Regions from separate parts of the Homo sapiens genome. Here regions 2 and 3 are each linked to region 1. Evidence: fine-mapped expression QTL. A gene starts in region 1. Each other region holds a variant in brackets. All regions are shown on one strand. Distances are from middle to middle. Region 1 holds the start of BTBD1 (BTB domain containing 1). Region 2 overlaps BTBD1 (BTB domain containing 1). Region 3 overlaps LOC124903543 (a long non-coding RNA gene).

Evidence for each region. PIP is the estimated chance that this variant, and not a neighbour inherited with it, causes the effect.
Region 2: its variant is fine-mapped to the expression of BTBD1 in whole blood (INTERVAL, PIP above 0.99).
Region 3: its variant is fine-mapped to the expression of BTBD1 in whole blood (TOPMed, PIP above 0.99).

What each region holds. Positions count from the first base shown.
Region 1 is chr15:83,062,648-83,070,830 of GRCh38, reverse strand. BTBD1 (BTB domain containing 1) reads left to right here and starts at 3,579. Exons shown (of 8, transcript NM_025238.4): 1 at 3,579-4,080. The coding sequence starts at 3,680. It overlaps MIR4515 (microRNA 4515), which reads right to left and starts at 3,496; the gene lies at 3,416-3,496. RefSeq lists silencers at 1,446-1,495, 3,372-3,851, 4,092-4,261 and enhancers at 1,400-1,694, 3,132-3,181, 3,192-3,311.
Region 2 is chr15:83,029,151-83,037,333 of GRCh38, reverse strand. It overlaps BTBD1 (BTB domain containing 1), which reads left to right. Exons shown (of 8, transcript NM_025238.4): 5 at 7,006-7,198. All of the region lies in intron 1 of LOC124903542 (a long non-coding RNA gene), which reads right to left. Among named protein-coding and RNA genes, the nearest start is that of C15orf40, 22 kb to the right of the region's middle. The variant G/TG (reference allele first, on the strand shown) is at 3,244.
Region 3 is chr15:83,089,430-83,097,612 of GRCh38, reverse strand. LOC124903543 (a long non-coding RNA gene) reads left to right here. Exons shown (of 2, transcript XR_007064743.1): 2 at 1-2,237. It also overlaps the pseudogene LOC124903588. Among named protein-coding and RNA genes, the nearest start is that of TM6SF1, 14 kb to the left of the region's middle. The variant A/G (reference allele first, on the strand shown) is at 4,641.

The sequences.
Region 1 (8,183 bases):
TGTATTTTTAGTAGACATGGGGTTTCACCATGTTAGCCAGGCTGGTCTCAAACCCTAACCTCAGGTGATCTGCCTGCCTTGTCCTTCCAAAGTGCTGGGATTACAGGCGTGCGCCACTGCAACAGCCCAGAATAATTTTTTTCTTTAACAATGCCTTCAAACAGTTGTTTACACACACACACACACACACACACACACACACACACTCCAGCTTGTATAGTTGTTTTTGGTGGGAGGGTTAGACAAGTTGGTACATTATGGCTGAAACTGGAAGTCTACTTACTTCTATAACAAACATGTATTATTTTAAACATTTCCTTTAAAACAATAATAACATGTTTAACGAGCTCATCTGGAACCAGTCTTCCCTGAAGGTTATTATTTTGAAAGTTTTAATGTCCTGTATAGATAATTGAATTGTCCAGGTTTTCTAGACGAGTACATTCCTTTGATATTTTCAAAGCCACTAATAGAATTACTCATATTTTTAAACTCCACAATTATGTTTATATATCCTTTCTTATGTCCAATTCTATGTTTTTTAATCTCTTTCCTTTTAAACTAGCTAGTATAGTATACTATAGAGTGTGATCTATGAAAGGCCTGCATTAGAATACCTGGGATGACACTTAAAAGTAGTAAGTGAATTAATTTTCTGAATCATCAATGGATACTGAAATCAGTAGGTGAAAGCTTTTTGGGGAAACAGACTGGTCAAACAGTCTCAGAGCATCACCCTCATGGATTACTTATTACATAAGAATCATACACCTTCATAATGGAGGGATCTGACAGTCACAGCCTCACCAGGTCATCAAGCTTAGCATCACCAACATACGCTTTCTGAAGTGAGGCAATGAAGTACTTAACATCACCAGCATATTCTTGCCTAAAATGTTTAACCTGGAATCTAACCATGAATCATACAGAATCCACCAGACAAATCCAGATTGTGGAGCATTATACTCCACAATTCCCCGGACCTTCAAAGAAGTCAACACAGTCAATAATATGTGAACATTGATTTGATCCTGGATTGGAAAAAAAGTCATCTGTGAAAGATATTTTTGGCCAGGCACAGTGGCTCATGCCTGTAATCCCAGCACTTTGGGAGGCCAAGGTGGGCAGATCATAAGGTCAGTAGATTGAGACCATCCTGGCTAACACGGTGAAACCCCGTCTCTACTAATGACAGGTGAAGCCAACTGGACTTCTGGGTAGGGTGAGGACTTGAAGAACTTTTCTGTCTTACAAGTGGTTTGTAAAATGTGCCAGTCAGTGCTCTGTAAAAACACACCAATCAGCACTCTGTGGCTAGCTAGAGGTTTGTAAAATGGACCAATCAGCACTCTGTAAAGTGGACCAATCAGCACTCTGTAAAATGGACCAATCAGCATTCCGTAAAATGGACCAATCAGCACCCTGTAAAATAGACCAATCAGCACTCTGTAAAGTGCACCAATCAGCATTCTGTAAAATGGACCAATCAGCAGGACATGGGCGGGGACAAATAAGGAAGTAAAAGCTGACTCCACCCCCCCCACCCCCGCCGGCCCCTCCCCTCCTGCCCCCACGCCCAGAGACTGCAACCACCCGTTGGGGTTCCTTTCCATGACATAAGGGCTTTGTTCTTTTGCTCTTCAGAAGAAGTCTTTGGGTCCCTGCCATCTTAAGAGCTATAAAACTCATCAGGAAGGTCCACAGCTCCATTCTTGAAGTCAGCAAGACCACGAACCCACCAGAAGGAACGAACTCTGGACACACTAAAAATACAAAAAAAAAAAAAAATCAGCAGGCTTGGTGGCAGGTGCCTGTAGTCCCAGCTACTCGGGAGGCTGAGACAGGAGAATGGCGTGAACGTGGGAGGCAGAGCTTGCAGTGAGCGGAGATCATGCCACTGCCCTCCAGCCTGGGCAACAGAGCAAGACTCCGTCTCAAAAAAAAATTTTTTTAGAGACAAGTGGAGAAACAAATATTAACTGTACATTAAATATTATACATAGGACCAGGCCTGGTGGCTCATGCCTGTAATCCCAGCACTTTGGGAGGCCGAGGCGGGTAGATCACGAGGTCAGGACTTGGAGAGGAGCCTGGCCAATATGGTGAAACCCCGTCTCTACTAAAAATACAAATAATTAGCTGGATGTGGTGACACGCACCTGTAACCCCAGCTACTCGGGAGGCTGAGGAGGAGAATCGCTTGAGCCCGGAAGGCAGACTTCATGCCATTGCACTCCAGCTTTGGCAACAGAGCGAGACTCCGTCTCAAAAAAAAAAAAATCATATATAGATGATTTGATGATATGGTTAATTTTGTTAGGTGTGATAATGGTATCATTAGTAGCATGATGTCCCTTTGTCTTTAGGAATTGCCGGCTGGCAATGGGGAAGGGGTTGTGCATCCACTATTTCAGCCCCTACTACTTTAAGTCTCTTCCCAAGCACGTTCCTCTCCCAAAGAAGTTACCATTCTAAATGCCTAACAGCTGGAAGTCCCCTCTGGTGGTTTCACAAGTGGAGTGATTTTACAGGAGAAACCCAGGTTTGGGGTTTACTATTTACTTGACGGCATTTGTAATCTGTAAGGCTCTTCCTGCAAAGAACAGGTGTTTCCAACTATACGTGCCTGGTCAAGGACTATTTCTTGGGTTTTCTACGTTCTGCTTTTGACAGCTGACTTAACTCAGGGCCTGCCTCACTGAAGGGAGAAAAAGGAAGGCCTCGGTCCCCCAATCATGATGACCGGGTTGTAAATACTGCCTGGGAAGGGATAATACAGCCTTTTCCATTGTGTGTGTGTTTTAGTTTTTAATTTTTTAAATTTCAAGCTTAGGCAGTGGTTCAGTGCAAGGACTGAAAAGCGCTACAAGAGAAGGTGGGCAAGCACGAGGGGTTTCAAATACAGGGGTGGAAGCAGTAGAAGGAAATGTCTCTTAGGCCCAGAGGACGGAACCAAAGGGTCAATTAGAAGGGAAAGGGACCTGCGGACCTGGGGAGAGGTCACTGGGGTTCTAAGCCTTCCACCTCTGCTTCCGGAATTTCCACGGGTTTCGCGGCCTTCTGGAGCGGCGACTTGGCCACGCTTGGGGTACAGGGTTGTGGGAAGTCATGTCATCCCCTCCCTCACGTGTTCCCTTGGCCATACTTTCCTGCCCCTCCACTTCCAGGCAAAACACTCCTCGGGACAGGCCTTGGGACATGTCCCAGATACACAATGGGGGCGCTGGACTTGGTGATAAGGGGCCTGCAGGAAGAAAAAGGCAGCCGTGAGAGCCGCCTGCAGATCCACGATGCATCTTAAAATTACAAATTCTCAGGCCCTACCCCAGACCTACTGAGTCAGAATACCCAGGGCACTGAGCCAGGGGGTGGGTGCCCGTAGGCCCGGCAGCACCCAGCCTGCAGAAGCTCCACCTCCGGGAGCGCTGAGCTAGGACCAGCTCCCCACGCCCCTGCCCTGGGGCTGCCGGGAGTCCAGTCCTGTTACACCTCCCGCGGCCGCGCACAGCGGCAACCCGGGCGTGCGGGGGCGCGCGCGGTCAGGGAGGGGCCTGCGGAGGCGCGAGGCCCCCGGAAGCGCCTTTCCCGGAAGGCAGGGAGGCAGCGCCGGCCTCCGGAGGCGGCCTGGGCGATGGCGGCGGAGTTTTGTCCATAACGTGGGCAACCGCGCAGCTGGAGGATGGCCTCACTCGGGCCTGCCGCAGCTGGGGAGCAGGCGTCGGGGGCTGAGGCGGAGCCGGGCCCCGCGGGGCCGCCGCCGCCGCCCTCACCGTCCTCTCTGGGGCCCCTGCTCCCCCTGCAGCGGGAACCTCTCTACAACTGGCAGGCGACCAAGGCGTCGCTGAAGGAGCGCTTCGCCTTCCTCTTCAACTCGGAGCTGCTGAGCGATGTGCGCTTCGTACTGGGCAAGGGTCGCGGCGCCGCCGCCGCTGGGGGCCCGCAGCGCATCCCCGCCCACCGCTTCGTGCTGGCGGCCGGCAGCGCCGTCTTTGACGCCATGTTCAACGGCGGCATGGCCACCACGTCGGCCGAGATCGAGCTGCCGGACGTGGAGCCCGCAGCCTTCCTGGCGCTGCTGAGGTGAGCGGCAGCGCGGGCCGGGCCGGGCCGGGCCGGGCCGGGCCGGGCCGGGCTGGGAGATCCCCGGGGCCCGGCCTACCCGGACTCCCGGATGACCTTGGGCTGGGCTCTTCTGACCCGCCCGGGGCCTCAGTTTCCTCCCGAGCCGTTGATGCTCCGGAGGGTCGAAATCGAAATCTGTGAACCAGGACGGCTCAGTCGCCAACTAAACGTTAGTGTCTTCATTAGGCAAGCGTGCGTTTTACCATTGAAAGGCGTTTCGCATTCCAATTATGGATTGTCGCTCAGACTTCAGAATTAGACAAGTGGCAAGGATAGAGGGGCAGATCAGGTTGTCCTGATTGCCCATTTGCGAAGTTTTATGTTTTTGTTTGGGGGAAGAGAGTAGTTGAAAAATCTTGCAGGACTGATGTTTTGGGGTTATTGTCACCCCCTTCCCCCCGCTTTTTTTGAGACAAGGTCTTGCTCTGTTGCCCAGGCTGGAATGCTGTAGCGCGATCATGGCTCACTGCAGCCTCGACCTCTCCGGGCTCAGGTGATGCTCCGACCTCAGCCTCCCGAGTATTTGGGACTACAGGCACGCGCCACCACGCCCGGCTAATTTTTTTTATTTTTATTTTTGGTAGAGAGAGGGTTTCACTATGTTGCCCAGGCTGGTCTCGGACTCCTGGGGTCAAGCGATCCGTCCACCTCGGCCTCCCAAAGTGCTGGGATTACAGGCGTGAACCACCGCGCCTGGCCACTTTTTTGTTTTTGTTTTTGTTTTTCATTAACGTATTAGTTGTCAAGACCCAGGAAAGTAAATACGAAAACAGACAAGTGAGGCTTTACCTGCTTTGTGTTTCTACACACAAGGTCACATTTGCTTATAAATGAATCCCTCCCTTGATGTTAGAATTTGCTTGTTGGTTATTTGAGGATAGTAGATTGACATCTAATGAAAAGGTGATTGTTTGGCATTACTAGCTTTTAATCACAGCCATCCTGTTAGGGAGGCGTAAGAATTGTTTACCCCAATTTCACAAATGGGACTGAGGCCCAGAAGAGTCAAGTATCTTGCCCAAGGTAACAAACAGCTAACTCACACTGAAGACCATGTCTGTTTCATTATACTAAGATGGTTTTAAATAGCTGCCTGAGTAGAACGTGTTGTTATTAAAATGGCAGAGTCTTGGGTAGTACTGAAGCAAAAACAGGCAGGTCAGTGGGACAGAATTAGATACAAAGGTTCACAGTTGAATCAGAAAGATGAACAAGAAAATGAATGTAAAGTTCACACAACTAGAAACAAATAATAAGATTCCATTGACGAATGGATAAAGGACAGGATAGATAACTTAGAGAAAGAAAAAATACAACTAATTAACGAATGTTTTACCTGGCTGGTAATTAGGAAGTGCAAATTAAAAGACAGTGGTATTTTTTCCTTCCATTAATCCCACCAAAAAATTTAAAGGTAACATCTGAACAGCATTTTCTGACAAAGATGGTGGTAAAAACCCTTTTGGAAAACAGTTTGGTGCTATAGATTTTCTTTCCACACGTAAGAAGCATTCAAGTATTGCAAATTGCATACAAAAATATTTACAGCTTTATTTATAGTAGTGAGGAAGTAGTCAGCTGTAGGGAATGGTTAAACAGTGGTAGGTTCACTTGATGAGATATAATGCAGTCACTAAATATGACGGATAGCACTTGAAACTGCACCATGGTTACAACGTGAAAAGACATGGAACAAACATATACCTAGAGACCGGGATAAAAGGAAACATACCAAAATGCTAAGCAAAGTCACCTGGAGTAGTGAGATGAAAGTACCTTTTTTTCTTCTTTATTCTTTGTTTCTGATATTTTCTGTAATTTAGTTCAGTTACATTTATAAAGGGGGGGGACCTCAAAAGCTAAAATCCAGGTCATTTTAGTTTAAAGTTCACCAGGAGGATTGGGTATAGTTCATTTGGATTTTCTAGACTAGAAGTAGTTTTCAAAATGATCTGTGGGCCGTCTGCATTATAATCTTCTGGGGTGCTTATGAAATGTGTAGATCTCATCCTCATTATATACCGTAATATTTGGAGGTGAGACCTTGGTAGCATTTTTAACACTCTCCCTAAGTGATACTTATACAAACTAAATTTAAGAACCACAAATCTAAAACTATTTTGGGGCAATTTTTTACTTTGAAAAAATATTGAGATTACTAGGATAAGAATGTAGAGGAAAAATACATATTTTAATATTTTCACCGAAGCTGCTAATTAGTGCTTTCCCATCAATAGAAAGTAAGTTAATTTTAGAGTGTTTGAAATGTAGGACAGTGCAATTTTTTTTTTCACATTGTAAAACATTTTTTACATTTTTAAACTTTTTTTTCATTTTTACATTTTCAGTGTGTTTTATTTTCCTAGCATTGTATTTATCCTTCAGGTTCTGGTCATTGTTCTATTTTGAAATTGATATCTGGACTGATTTCTAAATTTAATTTTGGCTGGCTGTGTAACGTAGATGTTGTTGTTAGCTAATACGTGACAAAAAGATGCCTGATAGTACTTGCTAAGTTGGAAGAGCAGGTTAGTTTGGGCATACTTGTAAACATCCTGAATTAGTTAACATTACTTACAGGCTCATGAACTTAAGTTTGAAGCCCTTAAAGAAACTGTGCACTTTGAACTGCCTGACCTTTAAATGATGTTCTTCAGTTGTTTGACAAATACTATATGCCTCCCTTTTGGGGCGCTTGTGAAACAGCGAATGGCTGTTGTAGGTGTTTGGGACACAGCAATAAACAAGAAAAAGTCCTTGCCCTCATGAAGCACATAATCTAGTAAAGGGAAACTAAAGATACAATGTCAAGTACTGATGAATGTTTTGAAGAAAAATAATCAAGTTATGAGAGAAGGAACATTCTCAGCAAGGGAACGCATTGTTTTCGGCACTAAGTATCTCCTGTTGGAGGAACACAAGAGTGAACCAGTGTGCCTTAAGCACAGTAGAGGGAAGTGGTAGAAAATGAGGTCAAAAAGATAGGCCAGACAGGATGGTGCAGGGCTTTAGAGACTGAGCGAAGACTTTTTCAGCTGGTATTTGATGGAAAGCCTTTGGAGAGTTTTGAATGAGATTGGGGAGGCGGAGGTGGTGGCAGGAGGTTGTGATCTGATTTACATTTTAAAAAAACAAACTCTTTCTGGCAGTGGTTGGAGTAAAATAGGCAGCAAGGTGATAGATGAAGAGGCTTTTGCAGTAGTCCAGGCAAGAGGCGATGGTGAATTGTACCTTGTACCAGGGAGGTAGCAAAGGACATGATGAGACATGGTCAAATTCTGGATATATTTTTGAAGGTACAACCAAGAGGACTTCCAAGACATCCAAGTAGTGTCATAGAGTAGACAGAAATATGAATTTGGAGGTGAGGGAACAGCTTGCTGAACATAAATTTGCAAGTTAAGAGTGAATGGTATTTAAATCGAGAGATCAAGTGAGATTACCTAGGAAGGCATGTAGACTGTGAAGAGAGGTACAAGGATGAGCTCTGGAATCTTCAAATATGTAGAGATGTAGCAGAGAAAAAGCATAAAATGAAACTGAGAAGCAGCTGTCAGTGGAATTAGAAGAGAAAGAAGGAGCATTATATTCTGAAAGTCAAGTCAAAACATTTCAAGAAAGAAGAAGTGGGAAATGTCAACTATGGAAAGTGGAAAGTGGTCAGTTATGCTCAATGCTATTGAGAGTCAGGTATAATGAAGACTTTGAGTTGATTTTTAATCTTGACAAGGTGGAAGCTATCGATAACCCTGCCAAGAGTGATTTCAGCTGATTAGAGTAGGTTAGGCAGAAAATGGGAAGTGAGGAGCTGGAGACAGTATAAACAGTCCTCTCAGGAGTTTTGTTGCAAAGGGGAACAGAGAATGACGTGATGGCTGGAAGGGGCACGAGGTAAGTGTTCTTCAGTATTCAGTCCTCAGCTCTCATCCTTTCTCCCATCAACCAAAGTGAGAGCTTTACGCACTCATTCCCCCACATGTGTCTCCAAAGCTCTACTTAGCTCCAGACCCTCATTTCCAACTGGACCATCGTGAAGTAATGTTTTATACCCATGCAGATGG
Region 2 (8,183 bases), 33 kb after region 1:
GGCCATGAGCTTCTGGGCTCAAGTGATTCTTCCACCTTCACCTCTTAGCCAGTGTGCCTGGCTGAATTGTATTTCATTATGCTTATTGGCCTATTTATTTTCCTTTACATTATTCATGTCTTTTGTTGTTCTGTTGGTGTGTTCAAATTTTGTTTTACTGGTTTATCTTACATTGATTCTTTGTATATTTATTATTATACCAAATTTTTTTTTCTGACTTATACTTGTTCCAATTTTCTCCAAGATTGTTTTTGTTTTTGCTGATAAGAATCAGTGTTTGGGTTTTTTTTAAATAAACTTTTGAAATTAAAGTTTAACATCCATATAGTAAAATTAACAAATAAAGTGAACATACTTATTTAACCAATTTATCCTACTGTACTAGTACCCCAGAAGCCTTTGTCATGACCCTCTAAGTCACTAATCTCCCTCTGAAAGGTGACTACTTTCTGTCTTCTATAAATTAGTTGTGTCCATATGTAAACTTTATATAAAGGAAATCATATATATGGTGTGTATTCATTTTTGTGTGGCTTCTTTCTCTTAACATTACGCCTGTTAGATTCATCCATGTGGTTGAGTGTGGCAGTAGTTCATTCTTTTTCATTGCTTTATAATATTCTGTTATACAACTGTGCCATGATTTATCCATTTTACTGTTGTTGGATATATGGATTATTTCTGTTTGGGGACCATTGAGGCCATTCTTGTACGTGTGATTTGGTATACATACGTAAACATTTCTGTTGGATATATACGAGTGGAATTGCTAAGTCATGGAGTGTGCATATGGTCGGCTTTAGTAGATCCTGCCATCCTGCCAAACAGTCCCTTAAAGTGGTTGTAACAGTTTACACTCATCAACAAAGTGAAGAGACATAAGAGTTTGTTTTGGTTGCCCACATCCTCTCCAATACTTGGTATTGTCAGTTTTTGTAGTTCTAGCCATTTGTGTGGATGTGAGGACGTATTTCATTTTGGTTTTAAATTTCATATCACGGATGATTAATGATGTTGAATATGCCAATAATTTTTTAATCCAGTCTGACAGACTTTGTCTTTTATCTGAACTGTTTTGGTTCACTTGCACTTAATGTAATTACAGATATATTTGGGTTTATGTTTACCATCTTGCAATTTGTTTTCTACTTGTCACATCTTTTTTTTTTTTTTCCTTTCTTGCTTTCTTTTAGAGGAATCAAGCTATTATTCTTTTTTTTTTTTTTTTTTGGTAATGATACAGTTTTCCCCCTTATTCTGTGAATATAGTGAACTACATTAATTGATTTCCCAATTTAAACCTATTTTGGATTCCTTACGTAAATCAGACTTGGTTGTTATGCATTATCCTTTTTATATATTACTGGATTTAATTTGCTGAATTTTTAATGTATTTTTATGACTACTGAATGAGAGAAATTAGTCTATATATATTTTTTTTTCTTGCAATGAAATTGTCAAAATTGTCCTCATACAAAAGTTAGAAATATTTCCTTTTTTTCCCCCAGTGTTCAAGAGTTTGTATTATTAATTTTCTCCTGGAACCAACTTCTAGCTTTATTAATTTTCTCTATTACAGTATGTTTTCCATTTCATTACTTTCTGCCTTTTTCTTTATTACTTTCTTTCCTTTCTTTGCTTTTAATTTGCTGGGGTTATTTATTTTATTAGTCTTTGTGACTTTTTGAGATACTTAGAAGGTCAACCTATATTCTTTTTGAATGCATATATTTAAGTGTATATTTTTTCTCTCAGCATCCTTCCCCCCCACAGTTTTTAATATGTGTATTTTCATTAGCATTCGATTAAGAATTTTTAATTTTTGCTTTTTTTTTCTTTGACTCATAAATTATAGATAACTTAATTTCCAAATATTTGAGATTTCTTCTTATCTTGCTCTTGCTGATTTCTGTCTTAATTCCAGTATAGTCAGAAAATATATTCTATATCATTTCAATGCTTTGAAATTTGTTGATATCTGCTTTGGCCCAGCATATGGTAGTTTTATTTATTTTTTATTATTTTGTTTTATTTATTTTTGAGACAATGTCTCACTCTGTCACCCAGGCTGGAGTGCAGTGGCATGATCTTGGCTCACTGTAACCTCCGCCTCCTGGGGTCCAACGATTCTCCTGCCTCAGCCTCCCCGGTAGCTGGGATTACAGGCATGCGGTGCCACGCTCGGCTAATTTTTATATTTTTAGTAGAGACAGGGTTTCACCATGTTGGCCAGACTGGTCTCAAACTCCTGACCTCAGGTGATCCACCCATCATGGCCTCCCAAAATGCTAGGATTACAGGCATGAGCCACCGTGCCTGGCCCATACGGTAGTTGTAATAAGTATCCATGTATACTTGAGAAGAATGTATTCTTCTTTGTTATGTGCAGAAAAACCTGAATAGTCCTGTATCTGTTCAACAGATTGAATACTATATCTATGAAAGGAATATATACTAATGATCTTCAAATTTTCTATGTATCTATCTATTGATTTGCTTTTTGTTCTATCAGTTACTAAAAGAAGTAGATTTAAATCTCAGGGTATGATTGAGAATGTGTTTCCTTTTGGTTCCATCAGTTTTCTTCTTTATTTTCTTCTTTATTTTAGGTACCTTCAAATTTAGGATTTTTTTTTATATTGAATTTGCTTCTTTATCTTTACAGTCTATCTCATCTTAAATCTAAACTTATTGTGGGTTTTTGTTTTTTATTTTATTTTTTGAGACAGTCTCCCTCTGTCACCCAGGCCGGAGTTCAGTGGCACAATCTTGGCTCACTGCAACGTCCACCTTCTGGGTTCAGGCAATTCTCATGCCTCAGCCTCCTTAGTAGCTGGGACTACATGTGTGCACCACCACACCCTGCTAAATTTTGTATTTTTAGTAGAGATGGGGTTTTGCCATGTTGGCCAGGCTAGTCTCGAACTCCTGGCCTCAAATGATCAGCTTGCCTCAGTCACCCAACATTCTGGCATGAGCCACCACGCCTGGCCTAAACTTCTTGTTTTAAAGTCTTTGTCTGATATTGGTATAGTTTCTCAAGGTTTTTTAAATTCTATATCTTTCTCATCCTTTTACTTTTAGCCTTACATTATTTTGACCATGTCTCTTGTAAGCTTCATTTTTAAAAAATTCAGTCTGACAGACTTTGCCTTTTATTTGGAATATTTGGTTCACTTTATATTTAATATGATTAATAGTCTATTAAACTTTCTTTTTCTTTTTCTTTTTTTTTTTTTTTTT[G/TG]GTGTAGACAGTGTCTCCTCTGTCACCCAGGCTGGAATGCAGTGGCATGATCTCAGCTTACTCCAGCGTCAACCTCCTGGGCTCAGGTTATCCTCCCACCTCAGCCTCCCGTATTAAAGATTCTTTTATTATTATTTTAGTGGGTTGCCCTTGTTATTACAAGAATATATCCTTATTGATTTTTAAATTAAATCTTAAAAATTAAATTTTTTAGATGGGGCACAGTGGCTCATGCCTTTAGTCCCAGCACTTTGGGAGGCTGAGGCAGGTAGATTGTTTGAGTCGAGTTCAAGACCAGCCTCGGCAAAATGGCGAAACCCTGTCTTTACAAAAAAAAATTTAAAAATTAGCCTGGAGTGGTGGTACACACCTGTAGTCCCAGCTACCTGGGGGGCTGAGGTGGGGATCACTTGAGCCCAGGAGTTCAAGGCTGCAGTTAGCCGTGATCACACCACTGCACTCCATACCTGGGCAACAGTGAGACCCTGTCTCTAAATAAATAAATAAAATTAAAATTTTTAAATTAAAATTTTCTACACAATATAAAGGCATTATTGATACTTTTGCTATATTTAACCTTCTCTAGCCTTTGGTGCTACTATTTCATGTATTTTAATGTTTCATATGTTATAAAGCCCACAAAACATTATTTTTAAAGTCAATAATCCTTTTGATTTGCCTATATATTTGCCCTTTCAGTTATCTTCATTTTTTTCTGTATGACCAGATGTGTGCTTCTATCTGGGCACATTTCTGTTAGCTTGAAGAATTCTCTTCAATATTTCTTTTAAAACAGGTAGGATACTAACCAGATTCTCTCAACTCTTTTTTTCTTTTGTCTAAAAACATCTTTATCTTACCATTTTTTTTAAAAAAAGAGATGGGGCCCTGCTGTGTTTCCCTGGCTGGAGTGCAGTGGCTATTCACAGCTTCAAAATTCTGGCCTCAAACAATCCTCCCACCCCAGCCTCCTGAGTAGCTGGGACTAGAGGGGCACACTGCTGAGCCCAGCTTGCCTTCATTTTTGAAGGATATTTTTCTGGGTAGAAAGCTCAAGGTTGACAGTTATTCCCATCTATCATTTGAATGCAATTCTATTCTGTTTTTTTTTTTTTTTTTTTGAGACAGAGTAAGACTGTCACCCAGCCTGGAGTGCAGTGGCACAATTTCATCTCAGTGCAACCTCCACCTTCCAGGTTCAAGTGATTCTCCTGCCTCAGCCTCCTTAGTAGCTAGGATCACAGGCACCCACCACCGCCCTTGGCTAAATTTTGTGTTTTTAGTAGAGATGGGGTTTCACCATGTTGGGGAATGGTACCAAACATGTAGGCTTTTATCGCTCACCTCCCTCCTACCATTCCCCCCAAGTCCCCAAAGTTCATTATATCATTCTTAGGCCTTTGCCTCCTCATAGTTTCTTAGCTCCCACTTATAAGTAAGACCATATGGTATTTGGTTTTCCATTCCTGAGTTACTTCACTTAGAATAATGGCCTCCAAGTTCATCCAAGTTGCTGCAAAAGCCTTTGTTTCGTTCCATTTTATGGCTGAGTAGTATTCCATGGTGTATGTATACCACATTTTCTTCATCCAGTTGTTGGTTGATGGGCATTTAGGTTGGCTCCATATTTTTGCAGTTGGTAGTGCTGCTATAAACATGTACGTGCAAGTATCTTTTTCATGTAATGACTTATTTTCCTTTGGGTAGGTATCCAGTGGTGGAATTGCTGGATCAAATGGTAGTTCTAATTTTAGTTCTTTTTTTTTTTTGGAGACAGAGTCTCGCTGTGTTGCCCAGGCTGGAGTGCAGTAGTGCGATCTCGGCTCACTGTAACTTCTGCCTCGCAGGTTCCAGTGATTCTCCTGCCTCAGCCTCCCGAGTAGCTGGGACTACAGGCGCACATCACTGCACCCAACTAATTTTTGTATTTTTGTTAGAGATGGGGTTTCACCATGTTGGTCAGGCTGGTTTCAAACTCCTGACCTTGGGATCTGCCTGCCTCGGCCTCCCAAAGTGCTGGGATTACAGGCATGAGCCACCACCCCCAGTCCTTTTTAGTTCTTTAAGGAATCTCCATACTGTTTTCCTTAGTGGTTGTACTAGTTTACATTCCCACCAGCAGTGTAAAAGAGTTCCCTTTTCACCATATTCACGCCAACATCTATTTTTCTTTTTTTATTTTTTAATTATGGCCATTCTTGCAGGAGTAAGGTGGTACCTTATTGTGGTTTTAATTTGCCTATGTATGATAATCAGTGATGAGCATTTTTTCTTATGTGTATTGGCCGCTTGTATATCTTCTTTTTTTTTTTAATTATACTTTAAGTTCTAGGGTACATGTGCACAACGTGCAGGTTTGTTACATACGTATACGTGTGCCATGTTAGTATGCTACACCCATTAACTTGTCATTTACATTAGGTATATCTCCTAATGCTATCCCTTCCCCCTCCCGCTGCCCCACAGCAGGCCCCGGTATGTGATGTTCCCCTTCCTGTGTCCAAGTGTTCTCACTGTTCAGTTCGCACCTATGAGTGAGAACATGCGGTGTTTGGTATTTTGTCCTTGTGATAGTTTACTGAGAATGATGGTCTCCACCTCCATCCATGTCCCTATAAAGGACACGAACTCATCATTTTTTATGGCTGCATAGTATTCCATGGTGTATATGTACCACATTTTCTTAATCCAGTCTATCATTGATGGACATTTGGGTTGGTTCCAAGTCTGCTGGGCGAAGGATATGAACAGACACTTCTCAAAAGAAGACATTTATGCAGCCAACAGACACATGAAAAAGTGCTCATCATCACTGGCCATCAGCAAAATGCAAATCAAAACCACAATGAGATACCGTCTCACACCAGTTAGAATGGTGATCATTAAAAAGTCAGAAAACAACAGATGCTGGAGAGGATGTGGAGAAATAGGAACACTTTTACACTGTTGGTGGGGCTGTAAACTAGTTCAACCATTGTGGAAGATAGTGTGGCGATTCCTCAAGGATCTAGAACTAGAAATACCATTTGACCCAGCCGTCCCATTACTGAGTATATACCCAAAGGATTATAAATCATGCTGCTATAAAGACACATGCACACGTATGTATAGCTTCCTTTGAGAATTGTCTCTTCATGTCCTTTGCCCACTTTGTGCTGGGATTATTTGTTTTTTTTTTCTTGCTGATTTGAGTTGTAGATTCTGGATATTAGTCCTTTGTTGGATGCATAGTTTGCAAATATTTTCTCCCACTCTGTGGGTTGTCTGTTTGCTCTGCTGATTATTTATTTTGCTATGCAGAAGCTTTTTAGTTTAATTAGGTCTCATTCATTTGTTTTTGTTTTTGTTGCATTTGCTTTTGGGTTCTTAGTCATGAATTCTTTACCTAAGCCAATGTCTTGAAGAGTTTTTTTGATGCTATCTTCTAGAATTTTTATGGTTTCTTAGATTTAAGTCTTTGATCCATCTTGAGTTGATTTTTGTATAAGGTGAGAAAGGAGGATTCCTGGCATCCATGAGGAATAGCATTTATTCCTGGATCTAAGTTTTGACTAATTAATGCTTTTAACATTTTAATTAATGTGTTTAACCTCAAATGGATTTATTGAAACCTTAAAATATATGCAAAAATTATATATGCTAAGATTTTTTTCCCCTATTTTTATGTTACGTCCTCTAGATTTGAATTTACGTTAAGTGAATTCCAAAGTTAGGAATTGAAATCAAATTCCTTTTTTTAGGCTTATGTTTTTATTTCCACAGGTCCTGCTCAATCTGGAATTTTGTCAGATCGTGAAGTGGTAAACCTCTTTCTTCATTTTACTGTCAACCCTAAACCCCGAGTTGAATACATTGACCGACCAAGATGCTGTCTCAGGGGAAAGGAATGCTGCATCAATAGATTCCAGCAAGTAGAAAGCCGCTGGGGTTACAGTGGGACGAGTGATCGAATCAGGTATCTGTTATATTGGGGATGCGGGGGTAGAGTGGGGGTAGCAGTTACCATTTGGCCTTTTTTATATATTATGGGAGATAATTAACCAACATTTCATTTTATACTTCATTTAATACACTTTTAAGTTAAGTTAATATAGGAGTCAAGAAGTCACTGAGGCATCCTGCCCTCCTCACTGATTTATGAGTGAGGGTGACTTCTTAAGAAAAAAATAGAGTAAGAAAGGATTGGGTTGGACCTTCTGTTACGTGATTTTTTTGTTTTTCCCCAAGATGGAGTCGCTCTGTCACTCAGGCTGGAGTGCAGTGGTGGGATCTCTCACACTGCAACCTCCGCCTTCTGGGTTCAAGCGATCCTCCCACCTCAGCCTCCTGAGTAACCTGTAAGGCATGCATCACCACGCCCAGCTAATCTTTTTGGATTTTTAGTAGAGACGGGGTTTCACCATGTTGTCCAGGCTGGTCTCGAACTACTGACCTCAAGTGATCCACCTGCTTCAGCCTTCCAAAGTGCTGGGGTTACAGGGGTGAGCCACCACGCCCAGCTGTTACATGATTTTTGTTTGGATCACCACTGCCAGTGGGCTGAGTTCTAGACCTTAATTGATCAAACGTTATTTTTACAGGCTTAGGGCTACAATTAATAAATGTAACCTTACTATGTTTAGTGTGAGTTTTTTCTTTGCATAGATGTTGCAGGGAAAGTATCTCAGTATACATTTATAAAAGCCTTGAGAAAAAAATCAAGAATCTTGAAAAATGCATGCGTATAATCCTGTTGAAGAAATTGTCTTTGCTGTACTGTGTTTCTTTAGGTTGAATGTCAAAATAGAATCAGTGCCGGTTTTCACAAAACATGACTTTTGGATTTTCATTTATTTAATAGCACTTCAGTATAAAACTGGAAATTAACAAGTTTGTTAAAACAGAAAAATCTGGTTGGATGTGGGACTATTATAAATCTTAAGTTAACATGGAAATTAAAA
Region 3 (8,183 bases), 27 kb before region 1:
ACCACCACACCTGGCTAATTTTTTGTAGAGACGAGATCTTGTTATGTTGCCCAGGGTGGCTCATGGAGTGTTTGAAGCGGGGTATAGGGCTTGAGAATGAAGTAGACCCCAGTTTGAAATACTAAAGAGATCTACCCCTCAGTGGAGGGTAAAGCCCACTTGAACTACTGTGAATGTCTCTAACCTGACTGTTTGCTTCTCCTTCAGACAACCTAAAAGGGTTTCTATCTTTTGATAGGCCCCACCTACTTACAAAGAACCCTCAGATGATTCTGTCAGCCAAGGAAGGGGCCTAACAGTGACTTACACATCTCTGCAAAGACACTCATGGAAACTACCATACTAATGAACATAGTCCTTTATTCATCAACGTAAACAGAAAACCAAAGATTGCAAATATATTAGGAAAACCAACAGCATGGAAGAGAAGATCCAAGTTGGACCAATAGAAAAATTGACCTTGGAGGAAACAGAGATAATTTAGGAAAGAAAGATTTTATAAAAATTGTGGTCACTATCTTCAGAATAATTTGAGAAGATGCTGCATTCAAGAACTGAGAAGAGGTGGCTATGGGAAAGGAACAAGCAAAGAACAAGAAAAGATTCTTGGGAATTAAAAGTGGGATTGCAATAGGGAACACTCAATAAGTGCGCCAAATAATAAATTGGATGCAGCGAAAGACCAAGCAGTTGATCTGGAATCAAGGAATCTCAGAATGTAGAGCAAGAAAAACAAAGAGACAGCAAACATAAGAGAGTGCCAAGGACAGACACAGAGATCCAGCATCTGTCTGATTAGGAAAGAACAGAGAAAATGAAAGAGAGAGAATACCCAAAGAAGTCACAGAACAACATTTTCTTAAGCTCAAGAAATATGTGAGTCTTTAAGACTGAAAGTGTTCACTGAACAAAATTAAGGTAAAAGGGTTAAACTCTTAGGCATGGTGGCTCATGCCTATAATCCCAGCACTTTGGGAGGCTAAGGCAGGAGGATCACTTGAGCCCAGAATTTCAAGACTAGCCTGGGCAATATGGTGAGACCCCATCTGTACAAAAAATTTAAAAATTAGCCAGGCGTGATGTCGCACACCTGTAGTCCCAGTTACTCAGAAGGCTGAGGTGGGAGGATCACTCAAATCTGGGAGGTGGAGGCTGCAGTGAACTATGATTGCACCACTGCACTCCAGCCTGGGGCAACACAGTGAGACCCTGCCTCAATAAAAAGAAAAAAATAAGATTAAACCTCCCTCACTAGCATTCTCAGTTCTCCTTACTCTATTTATTCCTTTTTTTGATAGCACTATATAATACTAGCACACTACATAATTGTCTTATGCATTATGCATATTATTTATGACCTGTCTCCCCTGCTAGAATGTAAGTTCCAGGAGGGCAGGAATCTTTGATTTGTTCCCTAATGAAGCCCAGCACCTTGAACAGTGCCTTGCACCCTGGAGCCATCAGTAAAGATACGTCAAATTGAATTAAAATCCAGACACATCTTGGTACAATTTCACAACTCCAAATATAAATGGGAAATCTTAAAATCTTGGGGATTTCCTAGAAAGAAAAAGAAACAGAACTTTCACCTGACATGAACAACATTGGATCCTGGACAACAATGAATAACATAACATCTTCATAGTTAGCAAGGAAGAAAAGCTTGGTACAATCTAAACCCTGCCGAAGTACCAGTTATTTGTAAAGGCAATCGTAGGGCATTTTCAGACATACAAGAACTTGGAACATTTACTGTTCATATTCCTTGGATGACAAAATTATTCAAACATATTTTCCAGCAAAAATTAAAGGAGGGTCCAAGAAAAAGGACAACATGGGATACAAGAAATTGAAACCCCAAAGAAGTGAAAGAAGCCAGCAAGAGATTAAGAGGATTCATCATTTTCAGATGCCCAAAAGGATTTCCTTGGACCAACATTTCAAATGGCATGAGGATTTACATTTATTAATATTCCCTGGCTCCAGTCATATTAATTGGTTCTTTTTTTAATGGGGGTTTTCCAGTAAAAAAAAACAAAAAACAAACAAACAAAAAAAAGAAAACCTGCTAGACAAATTCTAAAAGAGCTGTAACAATTGGTTATTTAGTTAATAATATTTACATAGTCACAAAGCTGAAATGCTATTTAAAAGTTTTTAATTTTTGAAACAATTATAGGCAAAACATAGAAAACTTACTTGGAGTTACAAAATAAAATGTAAATTTTATAAACGTTTACCCTGTAAGAACAGTAACTGACAAAAATTGAGGTGAGGGCAGGGGGTGAGCAGAAAATATGCTTCTTTTAAAAAAAAACAAAATTGAAATCCCCTCTGCAGTCCTGGTCCTCTCTCTCCATCTGTAGAAGCAATCACTCTCCTGAAATTGGGGCATGATCAACCCATATTTATATACTTTACCTATAAACAATATATAGTTATTTTATAAAAATTTAAAGTTTATGTAAATAATATCCTTACATGTTTTTTTCACTTAAGTTTTTGAAATCCACTGATTTTTATACATTTGGTCACTCATTTTCACTGTTAGAGTATTGACTATACCACAATTTTTCATTCCCCTCACTAATGGGCCACTGAGTTGTTTCACTACTCTAAACCACGTTGTAGTGAATATCCTTGTACTGTTCGCCTTGTGCACATGCTCAGGAGTTTCTCCAGGGCACCAATGCCTAAAAGTGAAATGGCCAGGTGCTGGGTGTGTGCACGTTATTTGGAGCCTCTTTATACTTGGTCGGTCCATCGCTTCTCTGTGATTTGGCTGAGATCAAGTGTGTACTTGATCAGTCCAGGACCAGCTCCAGCCGGTTCCTTTACTAACCTGCTGAGCTCTGAAAGCAAAGGCCCTTTAAGAGTCACTCAGCTTGGCTTTAATCAAGTGGCCTCAAGTTTTAGTGTGTCCAAGGACTGCTTGGGAAGCTTGTTAAAAATGTAGTCTCCCAGATACTCTGATTTGTTAGCTCTAGGGTGAGGCCTAAGAATCTGAATCTTTAACAAGTTCCCCAGAGATTCCAATACAAGTAGTCTGCAGCCTACACTCTGAGAAACATTCTCCTAATCCACAGCTACAGACAACACCTTTTAACCTAAACCAGACATCCACAAAAGGTGCTATGTGTTGCCAGAAGAATCAGATGGGTAAGGGGAGTCATTGCTTCCAGAATGTGCTGGTAGCAGAAACTCAAATCTCAAACAATGGTATACAATGGCCACAAATTAACAAGCAAGAGTTTTCACCCTACTTTGAGTCCAGGCCAAGACGTATAGTCTTCATTCTTGTCTCCCTGTGTGCAGGGACATTTTTTTGCTAGTTCACCCTTTTATCCCCACATCACCTTTAAAAGCCCCAGCTCTCTGCAGAGATGTCAGTATCCATTTTCTGCATCCAGTAAACTCAAAGCCTGCTCTTCTAACTTGGTGTAAACAAAAACCAAGCTTCCAGGTTACTGAGCTGGCAACCTCCCTAGAGCTGTGCCACGTTGCTCATAGACTCTAGGTCCCAGAGTTTAGTTTTCTCCTAGCCTCTGGGGCTTTTACCTATTTTCTTGGATGCTTGGATGTGTGTTTAAATGATTTTGTTCTATTTTATCCAGCTTTTTTTTTTTTTTTTTTTGAGACAGAGTCTCACTCTGTCACCCAGGCTGGAGTGCAGTGGCGCAATCTCGGCTCACTGCAAGCTCTGCCTCCTGGGTTCACGCCATCCTCCTGCCTCAGCCTCCTGAGTAGCTGGGACTACAGGCACACGCTGCCACGCCCGGCTAATTTTTTGTATTTTCAGTAGAGACAGGGTTTCACCGTGTTAGCCAGGATGGTCTCGATCTCCTGACCTTGTGATCCTCCTGCCTCGGCCTCCCAAAGTGCTGGGATTATAGGTGTGAGCCACCGCACCCAGCCTGTATCCAGCATTTTTAGGTGTTTTGTAGTGGAAGTGTTCTCAGATTATCTAATGAAGATAGTTTGAGATTTGAACTTGAAAAATTAAACTATCAGGTAAGAGGAGCAAAAAAAGAAGCATTTTCAGAGATGCAAGATTTCAAAAAAAATCTACCTCCCAAGGGTCTTTACTCCACCAAAACCAGGCAGTACACGATGCAGAGGAAGACGTGGGGTTCAGGAAACAGGAGCTGCAGCCCAGGAGTGAGGCTGAGGGGTCCCCTAGCATTGATGGGGTGACAGCTGTACAGCAAGCCTGGATGACAAACAGTCCTGCTTAGGGCAGGAGGGCTGCCTTAAAGAAAGATGAAATTATTAGGTTATCTAGTATGTTTGAAGGTCTTAGAGACAAAAACTTTTTCACCAGAGGATTTGAGGCAGAAGTAGTGAGAGGAAATAAAAAACTAAGCAAACAGGCTTATATTCCAAATGAAGACCCAAAGAAACAAGGAAACTTGGCCGAGTGCGATGGCTCACGCCTGTAATCCCAAAACTTTGGGAGGCTGAGACGGGCAGATCATGAGGTCAGGAGATCGAGATCATCTGGGCCAACATGGTGAAACCTCATCTCTACTAAAAATACAAAAATTAGCTGGGCATGGTGGCGTGGGCCTGTAGTCCCAGCCACTTGAGAGGCTGAGGCAGGAGAATCGCTTGAACCCGGGAGGCAGAGGTTGCAGTGAGCC[A/G]AGATCACGCCACTGCACTCCAGCCTGGGTGACAGAGCAAGACTCCGTCTTAAAAAATAAAAAAATAAAAAAAAAAGAAAAAGAAAAAAAAAAGAAACAAAGAAACTTGCACATTTTTGTGCTAGGTTTAAATTTTTCACTACTACAAACCATGTTGTAGTGAACATCCTTGTACTGCTTGCCTTGTGTACATGCTCAGGAGTTTCTCTGGGGCAATGATGTGTAAAAGCAAAAGGGCCAGCTGCTGGGTGTCTGCATGTTGTCTGGAGCCTCCTTATACTTGGTCAGTCCGTCGCTTCTCTGCTCTTTGGCTGAGATCAAGTGTGTACTTATCAGTCCAGGACCAGCCCCAGCCAGTGGGTAGTCATGAGGAAGTATGATTAGACAAAGAGGATGTGATCTAATGGAAAGAAACTGAGGGGAACTCAGCAAGTCCTGTTTGTTCAGATTCTTCTTGGTGTCTCTTCAGGATTAGGATGTTCCTAATGCCCCTTTCCTCTGCACATAGGAAGGGTACTTCTGGAGTGAGGGTTTTATGATTCACTCCAAAGAAGGGCAAGAGGGAGGTGAGAGTGACCTTACTAATTCTGCTGTTTCTCAAATGCCAAGATGCTATCTTTTGGGGTAACATGTCCTGAACCTCATCAGGAGAGAGTGATTAATTCAGCTAGGGAGGCAGGCTAGTTAGATAGAGACTGTGAACCCTGAAAGACCAGGGCAGAGAGTGCCTTTCAGAAGAAAGGTAGTTAGAGCAGGTAGAATGGCCCAGACGCTATAATCCCACAGCATAATCTAGGAACTCCCAGCCACCTGGCCGGGGGAGGAAGGTTAGTGAAACCTTTTTTTTTTTTTTTTTTTTTTTGAGATGTAATTTCCCTCTTGTTGCCCAGGCTGGAGTGCAATGGCGTGATCTTGGCTCACTGCAACCTCTGCCTCCCAGGTTCAAGTGACTCTCCTGCCTCAGCCTCCTGAGTAGCTGAGTAGCTGGGATTACAGGCACCTGCCACCATGCCCAGCTAATTTTGTTGTGTTTTGTTTGTTTGTTTGTTTGTTTTTGAGATGGAGTCTCACTCTGTTGCCCAAGCTGGAGTGCAGTAGCCTGATCTCGGCTCACTGCAAGCTCCGCCTCCCAGGTTCAAGCGATTCTCCTGCCTCAGCCTCCTGAGGACTACAGGCACACACCACCATGCCTGGCTAATTTTTGTATTTTTAGTAGAAACGGGGTTACACCATGCTGGCCAGGCTGGTCTTGAACTCCTGACCTTGTGAGCTGCCCGTCTTGGCCTCCAAAAGTGCGGGGATTACAGGCATGAGCCACTGCGCCCGGCCTAATTTTGTATTTTTAGTAGAGATGGAGTTTCTCCATGTTGTCCAGGCTGGTCTCGAACTCCTGACCTCAGGTGATCTGCCCGCCTCAGCCTCCCAAATTTCTGGGATTACAGGTGTGAGCCACTGCGCCCATCCTAGTGAAACTTTTAAGCAGAGGAGTGACATGCTCAGCTTGGCCATTTTAGTAGCTTAGTCTGGTAGATATACAGAGAATGAGGTGAGGGGGTATGAACTAGGCAGCAAAGAGCTGAGAAGAGCAGTAATCTAAGCTACAAATGAACGGGTCTTGACTATGGCGGCTGCAACGAAAGGAGAAAGGAAAGGTTAATTAGGAATCAAATCTAAGAGTTTGATGATTAAATGGATGTTGAGAAACATGGACCACAGAAGAATTTAGGGATGACAGCTGGCTGGGAGAAGGAAAAGGAAAGGGAACTAAAAGGACTAAGGTATACTGAGAGATGCTGAGACCTATTTGGGTTCTTCTCTGAGGCCTGGAAACAAGGTCCTCCTTCCTTGTGCTTGTGGCTGCCCAAATAAAATCAAGTTTTATAAACCAGGGAAGAAAGGAGAAAAAGATGTTGGGTAGTGCTTATAAGATAGAAACTTGTTGTATGCTTGACGCATTACTTTCAGTGCCTGTCTTGATTCTCAAGCAACTCTACAAGGTACTGTTTTCACTGGGAACACATGAAGTTACAGGTAACAGAATGCATAAATCTGGTTTAAGCCATGAAGACATTTGAAAATCTGACATAAGAATCCTGGAGAAAGAAGTTTCCTTTTTAGCTGCAGTGGCTCAAGGATGTCATTAAGAACCCGGCCTCTTTATGTCTTCCTAATCCTCCTCCTCAACACGTTGGTTTTTCACTCTTAAGCTTGTCAACACAAGGCTTTTCCCTTTCCGGGATTTTATCTTTAACTAGGCTACAAGAATCTTTCCAAAAGCCTGCTTCCAGACTCTTCCATCTCATTGGCCATAATTGGCCACATGCTGAGTTCAGAAGCAATCTCTAGCAGGGGAACGGGCTAAGCTTCAATCAATCATGACTTTTCTCTGAGGCCTGGGGACAGGTATTCCTTCTTTGTACATGTTGTGGCCCAAATGAAATCAGGTTGTATTAACTAGGAAAGAAGAAGAAATAACTGTTAGGTAATGGTAGTAAGTCATATTTCCAACCTTCAGAACATCTGAGGAAAGGGGACAAAAAGAAAAAAGAATTGACCCAGGTCAATCTCCTAAATGCTTTTTTTTTTTTTGAGACAGAGTTTCACTCTATTGCCAGGCTGGAGTGCAGTGGCACAATCTCGGCTCACTACAACCTCCACCTCCCAGGTTCAAGCGATTCTCCTGCCTCAGCCTCCTGAGTTGCTGGGACTACAGGCAGGCACCACCACGCCCAGCTAATTTTTAGTAGAGATAGGGTTTCACCATGTTGGCCAGGATGGTCTCAATCTCCTGACCTTGTGATCCGCCCACCTCAGCCTCCCAAAGTGCTGGGATTACAGGCGTGAGCCACCACACCTGGCCCAATCTCCTAAATACTTATTGATGGCATTTACAATCAGAAAGATAACAAAAAGCCCTTATTTATGCAATAATTTACCAGGATATAGCTGATCTGTCAGCTGTGTAATTACTGAAGTATAAAACGAAGGTGTTTCCTGACCTCTTTGTGTAAGTTATATCCTGCATGCATCACTTAAAAACCTCCTATGTCCATTTTGTGCCAGGGTGCATCCTAATATGGCGAGAGAGGACCGGGAGCTGCACTGGTGGTCCTCAGCATCTCTGTGCTTGGCCCAAGTCTCAATATCATGTGTATCTTTCGAATTCTCAGTAAAGGCCAATACTGGATAAGATTACTGAGTCCTGTGAGTCTAATTGAACAATCTGATCTTTTATGTTATCCTAGGTAGGTAAACAACAATGTTATTATCCCCATTTGACAGAAGAAGAAATAGAAACCTAGCAAGGTTTAAAACCTTGCCCAGGCCGGGCACAGTGGCTCACGCCTGTAATCCTAGCACTTTGGGAGGCCAAGGCAGCCAGATATCCTGAGGTCAAGAGTTTGAGACCAGCCTGGCCAACATGGTGAAACTCCGTCTCTACTAAAAATACAAAATTAGCTGGGCGTGGTGGCGCGCACCTGTAATCCCAGCTCCTCAGGAAGCTGAGGCAGGAGAATCACTTGAACCCAGCAGGCAGAGATT